2 separate regions of the Homo sapiens genome follow, and region 1 is linked to region 2. A link means that fine-mapping ties the variant in region 2 to the expression of a gene that starts in the linked region. Tissue or cell type: whole blood. Region 2 holds a variant in brackets; the other region holds the start of a gene. All regions are shown on one strand. Distances are between the middles of the regions.

The links. PIP is the estimated chance that this variant, and not a neighbour inherited with it, causes the effect.
Region 1: GGT7 starts here. The variant in region 2 is fine-mapped to the expression of GGT7 in whole blood (TOPMed, PIP above 0.99).

The regions. Positions count from the first base shown.
Region 1 is chr20:34,869,699-34,877,802 of GRCh38, forward strand. It overlaps GGT7 (gamma-glutamyltransferase 7), which reads right to left and starts at 3,158. Exons shown (of 15, transcript NM_178026.3): 1 at 2,949-3,158. The coding sequence starts at 3,117. It overlaps ACSS2 (acyl-CoA synthetase short chain family member 2), which reads left to right and starts at 6,914. Exons shown (of 18, transcript NM_018677.4): 1 at 6,914-7,125. The coding sequence starts at 6,948. RefSeq lists silencers at 3,040-3,329, 6,553-6,692, 6,773-7,202 and enhancers at 6,133-6,212, 6,233-6,282.
Region 2 is chr20:35,050,979-35,059,082 of GRCh38, forward strand. TRPC4AP (transient receptor potential cation channel subfamily C member 4 associated protein) reads right to left here. Exons shown (of 19, transcript NM_015638.3): 4 at 6,536-6,593; 5 at 3,998-4,053. Among named protein-coding and RNA genes, the nearest start is that of TRPC4AP, 38 kb to the right of the region's middle. RefSeq lists an enhancer at 4,910-5,019. The variant T/G (reference allele first, on the strand shown) is at 4,859.

The DNA.
Region 1 (8,104 bases), 180 kb before region 2:
AAATGAGAAGAAAAGGAGGAGTCCAGCATGCCATTCATTATTGGGAGACTGGGTGACTGGCAGTGTCATTAATGGAGAATGGCAGTGGAGGAAGAGCAGGTGCATGGGGAAGGGATATGATGAGTTCAAAATAGAACATGCTATAGATGAGGCACTTGCAGGACATCTGGAGACACAGGCCTGGGAGAGAAAGGAACACAAGGGCTTGGAGCTCAGAAGAAAGAAAGTATTTCCCAACCTTGGAATGATCACTGTCTAGCTCTCTTTCCCACAGAGCCTGATGTGGGGTGCCTGGCACTTGGGTTTAGGGAATGGCAGGCTAGAGGCTAGCTGGGCACAACCAAGGTCCTGGCTAAGAGGATGGTGCTGTGCCACTAGATGGTACCACCAGGTTGAGAACACAGGAGGCCATGTCAGCCTGTAGTCTGGTCCAGGTGAACCGAGGAAGCCTTGGGGCTTGGAAGTAGGATTGGGAGATATGGCATTCAAATGATTACACTGAAATGATGGCAACACACAAACCTGACACATAAATTTGGCATAAGGTATAAACTCCCAGAAGCTCAGATGACTAGGATCTCTGCTGGATTTCCATACAGGGGTGAGGGCAGAGCCTGTATTGAACTTCCCAAAATACTCCCTGAGGTTTTGGAACTTGCTCTCTCCTACCATTCTTTCATCCTCTCTCCTACCATTCTTTCATCCTGAGATCTTCTCTCTCATGCATTTATTCATTCAACAATTATTGAGTGCCCAATAAATAAATAGAGATGAGGGTTTTTTTTGTTGTTGTTGTTTGTTTGTTTTTTTGAGACAGAGTCTCACTCTGTTGCCCAGGCTGGAGTGCAATGGCGCGATCTTCGCTCACTGCAACCTCTGCCTCAGCCTCCTGAGTAGCTGGGGTTACAGACACCTGCCACCAGGCCTGGCTAATTTTTTTTTTTTGTATTTTTAGTAGAGATGGGGTTTTGTCATGTTGGCCAGGCTGTTTTTGAACTCCTGACCTCAGGTGATCCACCCGCCTCAGCATCCCAAAGTGCTGGGATTACAGGTGTGAGCCACCACACCGGCCAGTGTATTTTGTTTTGTTTTTTGTTTTTTGTTTCTTTTTGAGACTGAGTCTCACTCTGTCACCCAGGCTGGAGTGCAGTGGAGTGATCTCGGCTCACTGTAACCTCTGCCTCCCCAGTTCGAGTGATTCTCCTGCCTCAGCCTCCCGAGTAGCTAGGATTACAGGCACCCACCACCATGCCCAGCTAATTTTTGTATTTTTAGTAGAGATGGGGTTTCACCATGTTGGCCAGGCAGGTCTTGAACTCCTGACCTCAAGTGATCCACCCACCTCAGGCATGAGCCACCGCGCCCGGCCTATGGATAAGGTCTTGATGCTGGAGAAAGGAGAGTGAACAAAACAATCATGATCCCTGCCCTCATGGGGCTTACAGACAGGGAGTAATCAGATAATTGCACAAATAAATAATCATAGATTTTGGTAAATGCTAAGACATTTACAGAGGGCCAGAAGAAAACATGTCAGGCAGTTCCAATCTCTAGGTCAAGAGAGACAGGCATTCTCTGTTGAGCTGGAAGAGGAAACTAAGGCCCAGGACAGGGTAGGTGTGCCTGTTGTCGCTTGGTGAGTCAGGGCTGTATTAGGACCAGAAGTCTCACTCCTGACTACTGAATAAAAGGCCTAGCTTCAGGCTGATATCCATCATGACACATCTTCCCACTCCTCTCCCTGCTACCTCCTGATTCCACTCCCTTTGGAAAATAAGTTTTGATCCGCAGCCCTGACATTTGACGCCCATAAACCTCTAAACTCCATCTTCATTATCTCCTCACCCCCACCCCATACAGAGTGCAGTCCAGTCAGGTTGGCAAGGGCTGCTGGTCAGGGCCAGATGACCAGAAAGTGTAGAGGAGGAGAGAATTTGGGGCTTTCAGGCTGGGAGCAGCTAGGGAAGGGCCAAGCCGGAAAAGCAGCATCTGCCAGGCTGGTAAGAGACAAGGCTCAAGTGCAGGCACTGCGAGGAAGCGAGAGTGAGGTAGAAGGATGCTCTAATGCCAGGAAGTGACGTGCAGGGACAGAGGGATGGGGGATGAAGGATGAAGAATGGAGGGGAGGATGAAGCTGGGCCACATGGCTAGGAGGAAGAGCAGCAGGGAAGGAATGCACAGAGAGCTCTTTGCCCCCAGGTCTCTTCCAATCCCTGTCTCCTCCTTCTCTTACCCCCACTTCTCACAATTCCAGCAGAGGGCTGAGGGGAACACAGTAAAATTCTGGAGACTGCTTCCTAGGGAGCAGAGTACCTTACTAATACCCCGGCCAGATCCATGGCTCAGGGAGGGGTGGGGTAATCCACAGGAGAGTGAAGGCGTTCTAGTCCCCAAGGACTTTTGAGAGGTCATGCAGTCCATGCCTCCGTCTCCCAACACCCAACAGAGGGGAATCATATTCTCTTTACCCCTCCCTAGACATGAAGAGATTCTCCGCTTCTCCCAGACCCTCTGCTTCTCACAATCCCTGGCTGTGGGGAACTTCTCTTAAGGCACAGATTGGATCCCTCTTGCTGCAGTCTCTGACTTGGTTTCTCCTATCCTGTCCTCTGTGGCTAGAGAAAGCCCTCTTCTGGGTGATCACAGCGGTTCCTTAGGATCTCCCCTTCAACATTCCTTCATCGTTAGTTGGTTCTTCCCAGAAGGTAAGCCCAATCCCTTCTACTGCAGTCCCTAGCATCCTCTCCGTTGTCGCATCCTACGCCTCCAAGGCAGAAATGCACCCCCTTCCTCACCAAATAATTAACAGAGACAAGGGAGAAGAAGGGAGAGATCCAAGAAGATGGGGATGAATTAAGGAGATGGAGCTGGAGGTGGATGCTTGACACAGAAGAAGGAAGACCGGGGACTTCCCAAGGCAGGGCAGGGACGGGGTCAGCGGGCCTCACCGGTGTCGGGGTCTCCCAGAAAGGCGTCCTCGTCCTTGCGGCCCCTCAGCGGGGCCGCGGGCGCCGGCTCGTCCTCGGGCAGCCGCGGGAAGCTGGTGATGCTCATGTAGTCCACTGGCGAGTAGGCGCCCAGGGCGCTCTCCTGGCTGGCCTCGTTCTCCGCCGCCATCCTCGCCCGCGCCCCCCAGCAGCGCAGCGCCTGCCGGAAGTGGCTGCGGCGGGGGAGTGGGAGGGCGGAGGGCGGGGCCTGATCTTCGCGACAGCCGGGAGGGGGCGCCTCTCCCAGCCCTCGGCCGTGTCCCGGTCTGACTCGCCCCCGTCTGCTCAGCGCTATCAGCCTGCAGCTGGCACACAGGTGCGTGTAGATGGACAGCCAGGAAGGCAGCGCAGGGTCGAGGGGAGAGCGCGGGGCAAGCGAGACTTCAGTGGCTCTGCACTTTACGCAGCTCAGGGACCAAACCCCTTCCTCCTTCCAGCCTGAATACAGCTAGTGTCCTCCTCAAATCCCAGGCTTCCTTTTCGGGCCCCAGACCCTTTCACTGACCGCAAATCCCTCTCGACCCCAGATCCTGTCTCTGACCCCAAACTCCTCGGACCCCAGACCCCTCCTTGAATTCCGAGATCCTCCTCCTCCGATTTTAGACTCCTCCTCCGACCTTAGACCTCTTTTTCGACTTCAGACTCTGTCTTCACCCCCAAACCCTTTTGAAAACCCCAGCCCATGCTTCATCTCCAGGCCTCTTTGACTGCAGACGCCTCTTTGGACAACAGATCCCTCCTCTGACCTCAGATCCCTTCCCGCACCCCGACACTTCTGACTCCTCTTTCAACCGCATTCTCAAACTTTAGTGTGTGTTAGGATCTTTGAAAGCGGATCCCCAGATTCCACTCCAGAGATCATGATTCAGTAGGCTGGGATGAGGTCCTTGGAACCTGAATATTTACCATCATTTTAAGAGTTTTTGATGTGGTTCTGGAAAGGACACTTTGAGAAAGAAGGAGTGGTGGTAGTGATGGTAGGGCAGGAGTGGGGCAAGGTGGGGAATAGGTCTCCATATTCTGGATGTCTGGGTTCTATTCTGCCACCGCTCAAACACTGTGTAATCTTGGGCAAGACAATTAGTCTCTCTATCAGTTTCCCCATCTGTGAAATGGAAAGAATAATAGTACCCATTTTAGAGGGTTGTCATGAGGATTAAGTAACAGAATGGAAAGCGATTAGTATAGGGCTTGGCACCTACTCAATAAATGGCATCATCATCATCATCATCATTGCCTTAATCTGGTAGATTCATTCCCTCCAAACTCATCCATCCTCTCTCCACTCCAAAATTCCAACCACACTACAGCTTGTACTACTTCTCCATATCCAAGGATGAGGGAGGTTCCTTCTTTTACGAGGTCTCTGTTCCAAACTTTCATTGTGAAGTCCACAGGAAGAGAGGGGGGCTGGTGAAGCCTCTATACACACATCCTTTCTCTTCCCAACCCCAGACCAGTCTCAGGGATGGCCTGAAGTGCTTGAAAAATCTACTATATACACAGCAGCTGCAGTAGCAACTATAGACAGGAGGGGGAAGCAGTGTGTCGGGAACAGCTCTGGGGTTTGGGTGTAGGACTTGGGAGAGAGGATAGGAAGGAGAGGGCTACTCAGAGCTGTGTGGTAAGAGTGCCCAGGGAGGGTAACAGTCTATCACCAAAAAGTGTACCCATTGTCTGTGCCTTTCCCCACCCCAGAGAGTTCTTATCTCCTCAGTGATGTTTGTAGGGTCTATTACACTACCCTGAGGTCTAATCCCTCTGGTGGGACCCTTCCCCACTTGATGAGGTCTGCACCTTCTCAGTGATGTCCACTCCCACAGTGTAGTTGGCAGCTCCTCACTGGAGTTTGAGTCCTCTGGTAGGGTCCACGTCTCCTTAGTAAAGTCTATATCCTCTGTATCTCTTAGGGGAAATCCATGTCTCCTCACTAGGGTAAGTGCCCTTCAAAGCCATTCATGTCCTATTAGCAGGGCCCAGGGCCCTTCAGTCAGATCTGAGAACCCCCAGCAACATCTGTGCTCCCTTAGTGGAGTCCATGTACTGTCAGTGAAGTGTGTGTCCCTTCGGTGCAGTGAATATCTCCTTTATGAAAGTATCTGACCCCTTGGTGGGGTCTATGTCCACCCCAAGAGGTCTGTACTCCTTCAGTGGGCCCTCAGATTCCCGCCCTCCTTGGGATTGGGCAGACTCTCGGTCTCCCATAGAGAGATTTTTTTTCAGCTTAGGGTGTGCAAGGTTTACAGTCAGCTGGGCAAAGTGCAGGGAAGTAGCTGGGAAGGGAGGCTGGGCTAGATGGGGTCACAAGGCCTGTGTAGGCTTCAGGAGGTGGGAGCTGCCCGCTTCAGGCCTCAGAATCACTCTTGGAGTTAGATATTTAAGAATCCTTCCTGCCTTGACAGCCAGTCTGTGAAATGATGGTGAGGTGGGCACTTCTTTGTGGTGAGTGCAGGTGAGAGATGGAGGAGGGTCCTGCCTGACTTCTTTCTGGGGTGGAGGGGCTAGAGAGAAGCTAGAGGTAATTAAGCCCAGGTTGTGGTGGTGGTGGTGGGGGTTTCCCTTGGTGGAGTAAAGAGATTGTGAAGGAAAGAAGAGAATGTGGGCCAGGTGTGGTGGCTCACGCCTGTAATCCTAGCACTTTGGGAGCCCAAGGCGGGCAGATCACCTGAGGTCAGGAGTTCAAGACCAGCCTGGACAACATGGTGAAATCCCATCTCTACTAAAAATACAAAAATTAGCTGGGTGTGGTGGTGTGCACCTGTAATTCCAGCTACTCGGGAGGCTGAGGCAGGAGAATTGCTTGAATCCAGGAGGCAGAGGTTGCAGTCAGCCGAGATTGTGCCATTGCACTCCAGCCTGGGCGACAGAGCGAGAGACTCCATCTCAAAACAAAAACAACAACAAAAAAAGAGAATGTGAATGATTTTTCCTATTTGCACAGACTTTGATATTTTACAAGCCTTAGCTTCAAGCCTGACGAGGAAGTAAAACCAAATCTGGAGTCAAAGAACCTAGCTTTGGCCCTAACTTGGTCGTTATTTGCTCTCTGACTGTGCACCAGTTCCTTCCCTTTCCTGGGTTTGCCATTTGTGCAATTAGGAGGTGGGCTTATTACAAAAAACCTGAAGGTGTCTCCTAGTCTTCACTTATTGAGTCTTGTACTTTAGATCTGGATGGAGATTTGTGAAGGCAAGGAGATTGAAGACATGTCCTCATAAGAGGGAGAAAATCTGAGCTGGTTCCAGGGTGAGCAGAGAGGAGGTGCTGTCGCCAGAGCATGCCCTCAAGGTCATGGGAGAAGTTTTTCCGGAGGACGAGAATGTGGGTGTGGCTCAGAGAGGGGGGACCTGGAGGGAAGGGTGTCACCTGGAAGGAACTGGTGATAGTCAGGACTGTGCAATCAGATCACGGGGCGGCTCCGCGATGGACCTTACTCAACTCCTCTCCTTAGTCCATCCCTTTCCCTTTCGATCCTTGCCTTAACCCAACCCCTTATCTGTCACTCCAAGACCCCACCCCACTCTGGTCACTCCATGGCTCTGCCTCCTCTCCTGTCACAACCAGCCGGGTTACTCCCCATCACTCCATGGGCCCACCTCCTCTCCTGTCCCGCCTGGCCCCGCCCCTCCCTTGGCACTCCACGGTTCCACCCTCTCCCTTGTCACACCCGGCCCCGCCCCTTCTGCTTTCACTCGACGGCGTCACTCCTTCCGGCAAGTCAGCTCCACCCCTATCCCTCGACTTTTCCTTATAGTATTTCTGTCCTTGCCAACCTCGATCCCTCCCCAACCAGACACGGCCCCGCCCCCTCTGGCACCGCCCACCCGCCAGACTAAGCCACTCCCCCACTCACCAGGCCCCGCCCCTCTACGGAGGCCCCGCCTCTAGTTCGGCCTGTTTTCTCAGTCCCGGCACCCGCCGCGACCGCAAAGGCGGCCGCGGTTCTAGGAACTTGACGTGATGGGGCTTCCTGAGGAGCGGGTCCGGAGCGGCAGCGGGAGCCGGGGCCAGGAGGAAGCTGGAGCCGGAGGCCGGGCGCGGAGTTGGTCTCCGCCGCCCGAGGTCAGCCGCTCCGCGCACGTCCCCTCGCTGCAGCGCTACCGCGAGCTGCACCGGCGCTCCGTGGAGGAGCCGCGGGGTGAGGCCCGGCCCGGGCGGGCCTGGGGTGTCAGTGAGGAGAAGAGTGGGGGCTCCCTGGGGGAGTCGGGGGCTCCCTTGGGAAGCTGAGGGGTGGGTGAGGAGATGGAGGTTCTGTGAAGGAAGAATTGCGGTTCTTTGAAAATGGAAAAGGGATTCCGGGAGGAGACGAGGGTTCCATGGGAGCTGGGGAGTTCCCTGCAGACTTGGAGGGTCCGTGGTGGAGATGCGGGTTTTTGCGAGGAGACGCGGGATTCCGTGAGGGAAGAAGTGAGGTTCCTTGAGATTGGGACGGGGAGGTCGGCCAAGAGAGTGAAAGTTTCATGGGAAGAGAAGGGGAGTTCCTGAGGCGAAAAGAGGGTCTCTAAGGGGCGACGGGAGCCTTGAAGGGAGGAGGGCCACGAATAGAACTTTCTTTGCTTCCCTTTCACACCAGCTCAGCCACTGCCTCCTGAGACCCTTAACCTGTGAACTGTTGAGGGCAATAACGGGTCTGGTTCCCATCTTGGGGTCCTCAGATTAGTAATGGAGTCCCCGATCTATTTTTAGTATATCGGACATCCTAATGGAAATTACGCGGTATAAGACTGAACGAGTTACTACGATGTCAAGTTGTTTTATTTATTTTTTTAACTTGGGCTGGGATTGTATTAGTAATAGTTCAGAAGTTCTGATAGATGGTTCCATGTCTGTTAAAATGTATGAGGAAAATCGGCCAGGAGCAGTGGCTCACGCCTGTAATCCCAGCACTTTGGGAGGCCGAGGCGGGCGGATCACTTGAGGTCAGGAGTTCGAGACCAGCCTGGCCAACATGGTGAAACCCCCGTCTCCACTAAAAATACAAAAATTAGCCGGGTGTGGTGGCGGGCACCTGTAATCCCAGCTACTCGAGAGGCTGAGACAGGAGAATTGCTTGAACCCAGGAGGCAGAGGTTGCAGTGAGCCACGATAGCACCACTGCACTCCAGCCTGGGCGACAG
Region 2 (8,104 bases):
GACAGAGTGAAACCCTATCTCTAAAAAGAAAGAAACTGCAGTACTGCTATAGCTTACACACACACACACACACACACACACACACACACACATATATATCCCACCCCTACTGCCTTAAGGCAACTAGAGCTTAGTGACTTTAATATTTCTTTTTTTTAGCCTCTAAGCTGAAAAAATTCCAAGGTTTACTGCGATAAACTTGACTTCTCCTTAAAAAGTATAATCAAGAGTGCAGACACACACAGTTTGGTAAATGGGAACCCCAAGCTAGGAGGCATTTCAGAATCAGTGAAATGAGATATGTTGCAACAAATTTAATTTTCTTTCTTTTAATTTTAGAGACAGGGTCTCACTCTGTTGCCCAGGCTGAGGCCATGACTATTCACAAGTACGAATATAGCTCACTACAGCCTCAATCACCTGGGCTCAAGCGATCCCCCCACCTCAGCCTCCTGAATCACTGGGACTACAGGCGTGCACCACCGCACCTGGCAAATTTAATTTTCAAAGTGAAGGCATCAATAAAGATGTGCCACGTATATAAATCTTTGACGATCACATTAAATAGGACACTAAAGAAAGCAATCTCCATCTGTATTAATACATTTCGGTTCTTCAGTCGTAGCACTGACACATTAAAAAAAAAAAAAAAAAAGGTTGTTATTCCCGAACTACATACAGTACCTACACTGGCTATGATATGTGAAACAGGACTGACTCTAGTTTTACTGACAAGCAAAAGTTCTGGAAGATCCAAAGAAACAGAACAAAAAGAGAACTAAATTTACACTTTCTCAAAGCTTAAAAATCTATCTCCAGGCTGTCAAATACACAACCCTGCTGCTCTAACTAGCTACCCTTGACTACCCACCTTTCTCCTCTCTTCAATTTATCAAAGTGCTACTCCTTTTACAGACTGACTAAAATGACTCCTCTTGGAAAACCTTCCCAAGTCAACAGTGGCCACCCAAAAGGCCATCACAATCCTTCCTTTCCTCTATATCACAAGTTCTTAACTGAGGCCAAAAAGCACTAAAACAATATATAAAAGGTTGTATGCAACTACATTTTTCGGGGGAGAGTTTTTTCCATGTAACATTCATCATAGGTTTTTTTTTGGTTTTTTTTTTTTTTTGGAGACAGGGTCTCACTCTATAGCCCAGGCTGAGTGAGTACACTGGCACAATCATGGCTCACCGCAGCCTTAACCTCTCAGGCTCAAGCAATCCTCCCACCTCAGCCTCCTGAGGAGCTGGGACTATGGTATATAACACCACGTCCAGCCAGTTTTTTATTTTTTGTAGAGACAGGTTCTATGTTGCCCAGGCTGGTCTTGAACTCCTGGACACACACAATTCTCCTGCCTCGGCCTATCAAAGTGTTGAGATTATAGGTGTGAGCCACTGCGCCCAGCCTAATCATAAGCTCTTGACCTAGTATCTGTCAAGTATCTAAATGAGGAGCTACAAACTAGCATCCAGTAGGCCAAGCTTTTTCTGGTGAGCAGTACTGTTTATTTTTTTATCTTTTATTTTTTGAGAGACCCTCACTCTGTCACCCACGCTGGAGTGCAGTGGTGCAATCTCAGCTCACTGCAACCTCTGCCTGCTGGGTTCAAGTGATTCTCTTGCCTCTCCTGAGTAGCTGGGACTATAGGCATGTACCACCACACCTGGCTAATTTTTGTGTTTTTAGTACAGACGGGGTTTCACCATGTTGGCCAGGCTGGTCTGGAACTCCTGACCTCAAGTGATCCACCCGCCTCAGCCTCCCAAATTGCTGGGATTACAGGTGATAGCCACCGTGCCCGGCCAACAGTACTTTTTAAACTTTTGAATTCAAACATCTTTAGACAGGACATACTTGCTCCAGTTTAGTCACAGTTTACACAAGTCCCCACTCCAACACCAGCAATTCCAAACATTTCCTGTTTTCTGCCTGATCCCTGGAGGCATTGGTGTTTGCAACCCTGAGAGCCCCAGGTTCTCTACATTAACATGGAATTCAGCCAGATAGCACATAATTGAACCATATCGCCCTATGTTCCTCAAATTTTTTAAAAAATTTTATTTAAAAATACTTTTAGTTGATATATAATAAAGGTACATAATTTCAGGGAGCATATAATTTAATACATTCGTATAATTTATAAAAATCAAATCAATGTACTTGGGATAGCCATCAGCTTAAATACTTGTCTTTTCTTTATGCTAAGAACCATTCAAATTCTCTTCTAGCTATTTTGAAATGTAAAACAGAACAGAATATTATAAACTAAGTCACCCTTACTGATTTATCTAACACTAGGTCTTATTTATCATCCCATATATTTGTACCCATTAATCAACTTCTCTTCATACATTTCATTTTTTTAACTTAACTGTTTTATTGGAATGTCACTGATTAACATTAGGTATCATGATTTTAAAACGGCCTCATAAAACTAGTGACTATATGGAGTTGCCAAAGATGGAGTCATTATATTATACACTGTCTTCTTCTATAAGGACAATTTCTTATTGGCCTTAGTTGCAAGAACTGTGCATTTCCTGAACAATTTGAAATTTTATCTTATAGATCTCCCTGTGCCTATCTCTGTCATTGGCTATACATGGCTACCGAGCACTTAAAAGGTGGCCAGGCCAAACTAAGATGTGCTCTGGGTGTTCAAACAAGAGGAAAGAAAAACAAAACACACACACACATTGGATTTTGAGAGCTCAATACGAAAAACAAGTAAATATCTCATTAATAATTAATTATACTGATTACATGTTAGAATGACAATATTCTTGATACACTGTGTTAAACAGAATTTATCATTAAAATTAACTTCACCACTTCTTCCTACTTTTTTCTTTAAAAAAATGTGGCTACAAGGAAATTTAAAATAACCCAAGTGGCTTGCATTATATTTCAATTGCACAGCACTATTATAGATGCTGAATTACGTAAGTGTTCAAACATATTCCCCTATTTGTGTTGGCTGCTAAGAAGCTTGAAGCCAAATTTGTGCCCATCCGTAATACAGATGATTTTATGGTCTTCATTTTTATATCAGCCCAATTCCTGGCTATACGTTATGTCCCCACCTTTATCTTCTTCTTTCTTACCTGCTTCTAAGTTCGTGATCTTGGTAGATTTTGCATACACCCACAAGATGTCAGAAATCTTATTTTGAATGAGGCAAGAAATGAAATGGAGCTAAATGTTTTTTTTTTTTTATTTCCACAGCATACAGGGTTCACATTTATAATAGCGCTCGTCTCATTCTGCCATGTATTATGATTCACAGTTTACACAGTTTATCATAAGTTTCTAAAAGACAGGTACTGTATCTTTTAAAAACTAACATTTATATATTGTTTTACAAAGTGTTTTCACATCTACTATCTCATTTCTCACAATAAATCTATGATGTTAATACAACTGCTAACTGCATTCTATTGGTAAGAAACTACGGCTTGGGAGGTGTACTAAGCCAAGGGCCAGAACACAAAATCAGGTCCTAACACTAAGTGCCATCCTCTTTTGTTTCTACCAGATTGCTTTCTTTATTCACCATTCTTCCTGGCTCAGTGGTCAACCTAGTAGAGTCCTGCTCAATATATGGGCGGGGCTTCTGGTTCTCATTTTGTTTTCTAACAAGGAAAATGAAGAAATAGGCATAATGGAGTTAAAATGAGTCTTAAAGGTCACAGTCTGCCAACACTTGTCACCTTTTGACAAGTGTCCAGTTTCTACTTGGACAGCTCTAAGGCCAAAGGAGTTTACTACCTGCTGCAGCAGTCCTGGCTCTTAACAACTGCTACAAAATTCTGCCTCCCCGTAATTTCTACCAGTTAGTCCTGATTTTCAGGCACACATAAAATAAGCCCGATTCCCCCACTGTCTGAAAGCAGCTCTTATGTCTGCCATTCTACTCGAATATTCCCATCTTAAACATTGCAGACCTGGTAGGGGAGATAAACAGAGCCCCAGTGGCAGGGGTACTTACACAGACACAGGTATTATACAGGATACTCAAGCAGTCCTTGGACATTTCATCACTTACTGAAAGTGAAAGGGTAATGACTGGTTATTTTTCTCAATGAAAAGATAGTACAACAGTTACCACATTTTTTTCAGCATAAGAACTGTTATAATCCCCTCCAAGATGATTATTTTTCCTTTAATATACTTCTTCCAGCCCCTGTCTACCAAAGGTTTTCATAGTGCCCATCAGAACCTACAAGCCCATTTGCATATTGCTTTTGGTTTGATACAGCAGCTGTTTTCTTATTATGCTCCACAGTCTTCATAATTTCAACCTGTTGTTGTGCCATCATTTAATAAAGCCATTTTCCCTTAATGTCTTGCTTAGGATATATCTAGGATTTGTTTTTTTTGTTTTTTGTGTTTTTTGGCTATTTAAGTAGACCACAAATGAACAACTTAATATATATGTGTATCCTTTTCATGTTTGTATTAAACTAGTTCCTCAAGATACATTTTCAAAAGTAGAACTACTAGAATCTAAAGTATAGGCATCTTTTTTTTGTTCATTTGTTTTGGTTTTTTAAATGAGGTCTTACTCTGTCACTCAGGGGCACAATCACAGCTCACTGTAGTCTCGAACTCCTAGGCTCAAGCAATTTTCCCTCCTCACCCTCCCGAGTGGCTAGGACTGCATGCGCGTGTACCACGCCTGGCTAAAAGTTAAAAGTATAAGCATCTCAATTGCTCTTGTTATAAATTTCCATTGAAAGTTCTACTGCAGCAAACAAAAATACCATTTTTATCAGACTCATTAACTGAGCATTTCTTTTTTTGTTGCTGTTATCTGTGTTGGGCAAATGGCTCTTAATGTCTGATCTAT[T/G]ACTAATTCTTATAAAGAAACTACTACTTCCCTGTGAGCAGGAACAGGAAAGTAGCATAAAAACGAAACTTAATTTTCATGAGCCCAAAACCAAAAGATGATGAAACTGAGTATGAACCATGGACAAAGTGCTTTATTTGGCACTTGCTTCTATTTTTTAAAATTGTTTCCATTCACTCCTAAGCTGCTAGGAATGCTAAAATGCTAGGTCTCCTTCTCAGATCCCAATGGGCAGCCCTGCCAAGCTAGCTTGACTAGATGGGTTGTCTCATAATCCTGAGACAACGCAGACGCTCTGCATCCCTTATCACCACCTTTCAACCTACTGGGGCTCTGTGATTGATTTATTTAACGACTTCAGAGCAGGGTGAAACACTGCTCTGCATGTCTCACTATATATCTCACTATTTCTAGATCCTCCATTTTTAAAAGGAATTGGGATTCACTCATTCATCAAGTATTGTTCAGCATCTACTCTAGAGCAGATACAGTGGTGAGGGAAAAAAAGTCTCAGCCTTCATGGAACCTATAAATCTAGTGGGAAGAAGAGAGACTAAACAAGTGCACCAACAAATAATTACAATATGCTACTTGCTATGAGGGTACATAGAGAACATGAAAGACCAAGTTAGAATACACAGCTGAGACATTAAAAATGAATATAAATCCTCTTAATAACCACTACTGCATGCACAAATGAGGCCTTATACAGTATGTCGTATTGGGGTAAAAAAAAAATCTTTTAAATTAAAAAAACGCAAAGTTGGTAGGAGGGCATTCACCAAACATTAACTGAAGTCATCTCTGGCTTTTAACACCAGAGTAAAGTGCATTCACTTTTTTATTTTAAATTAAATACCGAAGCTGGGTGCGGTGGCTCATGCCTGTAATCCCAGCACTTGGGAGGCTGAGGTGGGCAGATCACTTGAGGTCAGGAGTTCGAGACCAGCCTGGTCAACATGGTGAAACCCCATCTCTACTAAAAAAAAAAATACAAAAATTAGCCGGGTATGGTGGTGGGCGCCTGTAATCCCAGCTACTTGAGAGGGTGAGGCAGGAAAATCACTTGAGCTCAGGAGGCGGAGGTTGCAGTGAGCCAAGATCATGCCACTGCACTCCAGCCTGGGCAACAGAGCGAGAGACTGTCTCAAAAAAAAAAAAATTGAATACCTAAAAAGAATTATTTGTAACGTGTAAGTTATAAAAAATAATAATAGAATATTACCCATATATCTACCACCCAGCTTAAGAAATAGTGCATACCAAAACACTCTGACTTTTTACCATTCACACCCTGGTAATGCCTGAACTTTTTACAAAGAGCATGTATCACCTTTCTAAAAAAAATAGTTTAAAAAAAATAAAACAGAGTGATCTTACTCTCTCAGCTAGTTATATGTGAGAAAGAAGAATTTCCCAAGGAAACATAGAAGCTGGATCACAGGACTATCAAAAGTACAAAGATGCATTCTCTTAACCCAGATCTGAATTTCTACGCAGTACAGAATGAATAAAGACAGCTGCTTAGCTGGGGGAGGAGAGAGCAACCTGTAGCTAAATGTAAGACATGTCCTTACTATTAAGAGTTAGGAAGGGAAGGAAGAAGGCAGCTGCTGGGAACTGCCACCGTATCGGCAGGTTGGAAAACAAGGACCAGTAGCTAATAGGTATACTTACTTTTCAGTTTCTGTCCCCGGATAGAGATCGTAGGCCTCATAAGAATTTCTACAAGAAGCTATAAAAAAAATTAGATAAAATCTTCAAAATTAATTCAAAGTATAACTTATAAAATGATTTTGCCATAACCATTCATGGCCCATGTATCTGTCACAGTATTACAAGACCCTTTTGTTCCAGGAGGCAGTTAAGGTTCAGTAAGGCTCCTGACTGCAGCAAGTCAGGAGACCCAGGTTCTAGTCCCAGCTTGGCCACCTACTTGCCCTTCTCTGGCCTCAGCTTTCTCATTTTTGAAAAGAAGTATTTTAGATTAGGTAATCTCTGGGATCTAATGCGGCTTTAATTTCTGAAAAGCTGCAGAACATTATTACTATGATTCTTCTGTTTAAAGAACATTTGTAAGTTTATTTTAAAAGGACTCAAAAGATACACCATAAATTGTTAACACTGATTTCTACAGGTTTGGGGGTTATATGCATGTGTTTTTTATTTTACATACTTTAATACAATTTTGCACAAACTGTTTAAAATAAGCATGTATTTAAAAATTCATTCTACGGAGAGAAAGGATAGTTGATAAAAGGGTCAATCCATTAGAAAGATATAACAACTACAAATATGTATGTACCTAACAATAGAGCCCAAAAATACATGAAACAAAAGCTGGCAGAAATGAAGGAAACAGATAATTTAAAAATAAAAGTTGGACACGTTAATAACTCTGCTTTCAATAATAGACAACTAGGCAGACGAGCAAAGAAATAGAAGACTTGAACACAACGAACACATATATTCTAACAGACATCTACAGAACACTCCATGCAGCAAGAACAGAGTATACATTCTACTCAAGTGCACATGAAACATTCTCCAGGACAGATCAAATTTCAGGCCACTGAACAAGCCTCAATAAATTTAAAAGCACTTAAATCACATACAGTATGTTGTGTGGCCACAATGGAATGAAATTAAAATCAGAACGAAATTTGGGAAATTCATGAATTATATGGATAATTTTAAAAACCCATCCTAAATAATAATGGGCCAAAGAAGAAACCACAAGGGGAAGTATAAAGTATCCAAGAAGGATGAAAATACCAAAACTTATGATGTAGCTAATGGAGTGCTCAGAGGGAAATTTATAGCTGTAAATGCCTATATTAAAAGAAAATTCTTTTTTTTTTTTTTTTTTTTGAGACAGAGTCTTGCTTTGTCTCCCAGGCTGGAGTGCAATAGCCCTATCTCGGCTCACTGCAACCTCCGCCTCCTGGGTTCAAGCGATTCTCCTGCCTCAGCCTCAGAGTAGCAGGGATTACAGGTGCCTGCCACCACTCCTGGCTACTTTGTGTATTTTTAGTAGAAACGAGGTTTTGCCATGTTGGCCAGGCTGGTCTTGAACTCCTGACCTCAGGTGATCTGCCCACCTTGACCTCCCAAAGTGCTGGGATTACAGGCATGAGCCACCGCACCCGGCCAAAGAAAATTGTTTCTAATCGATAACCTAATCTTCTACCTTAAGACACTGGAAAAAGAGCAGACTAAACCCAAAGCAAGCAAAAGGGAGAATAA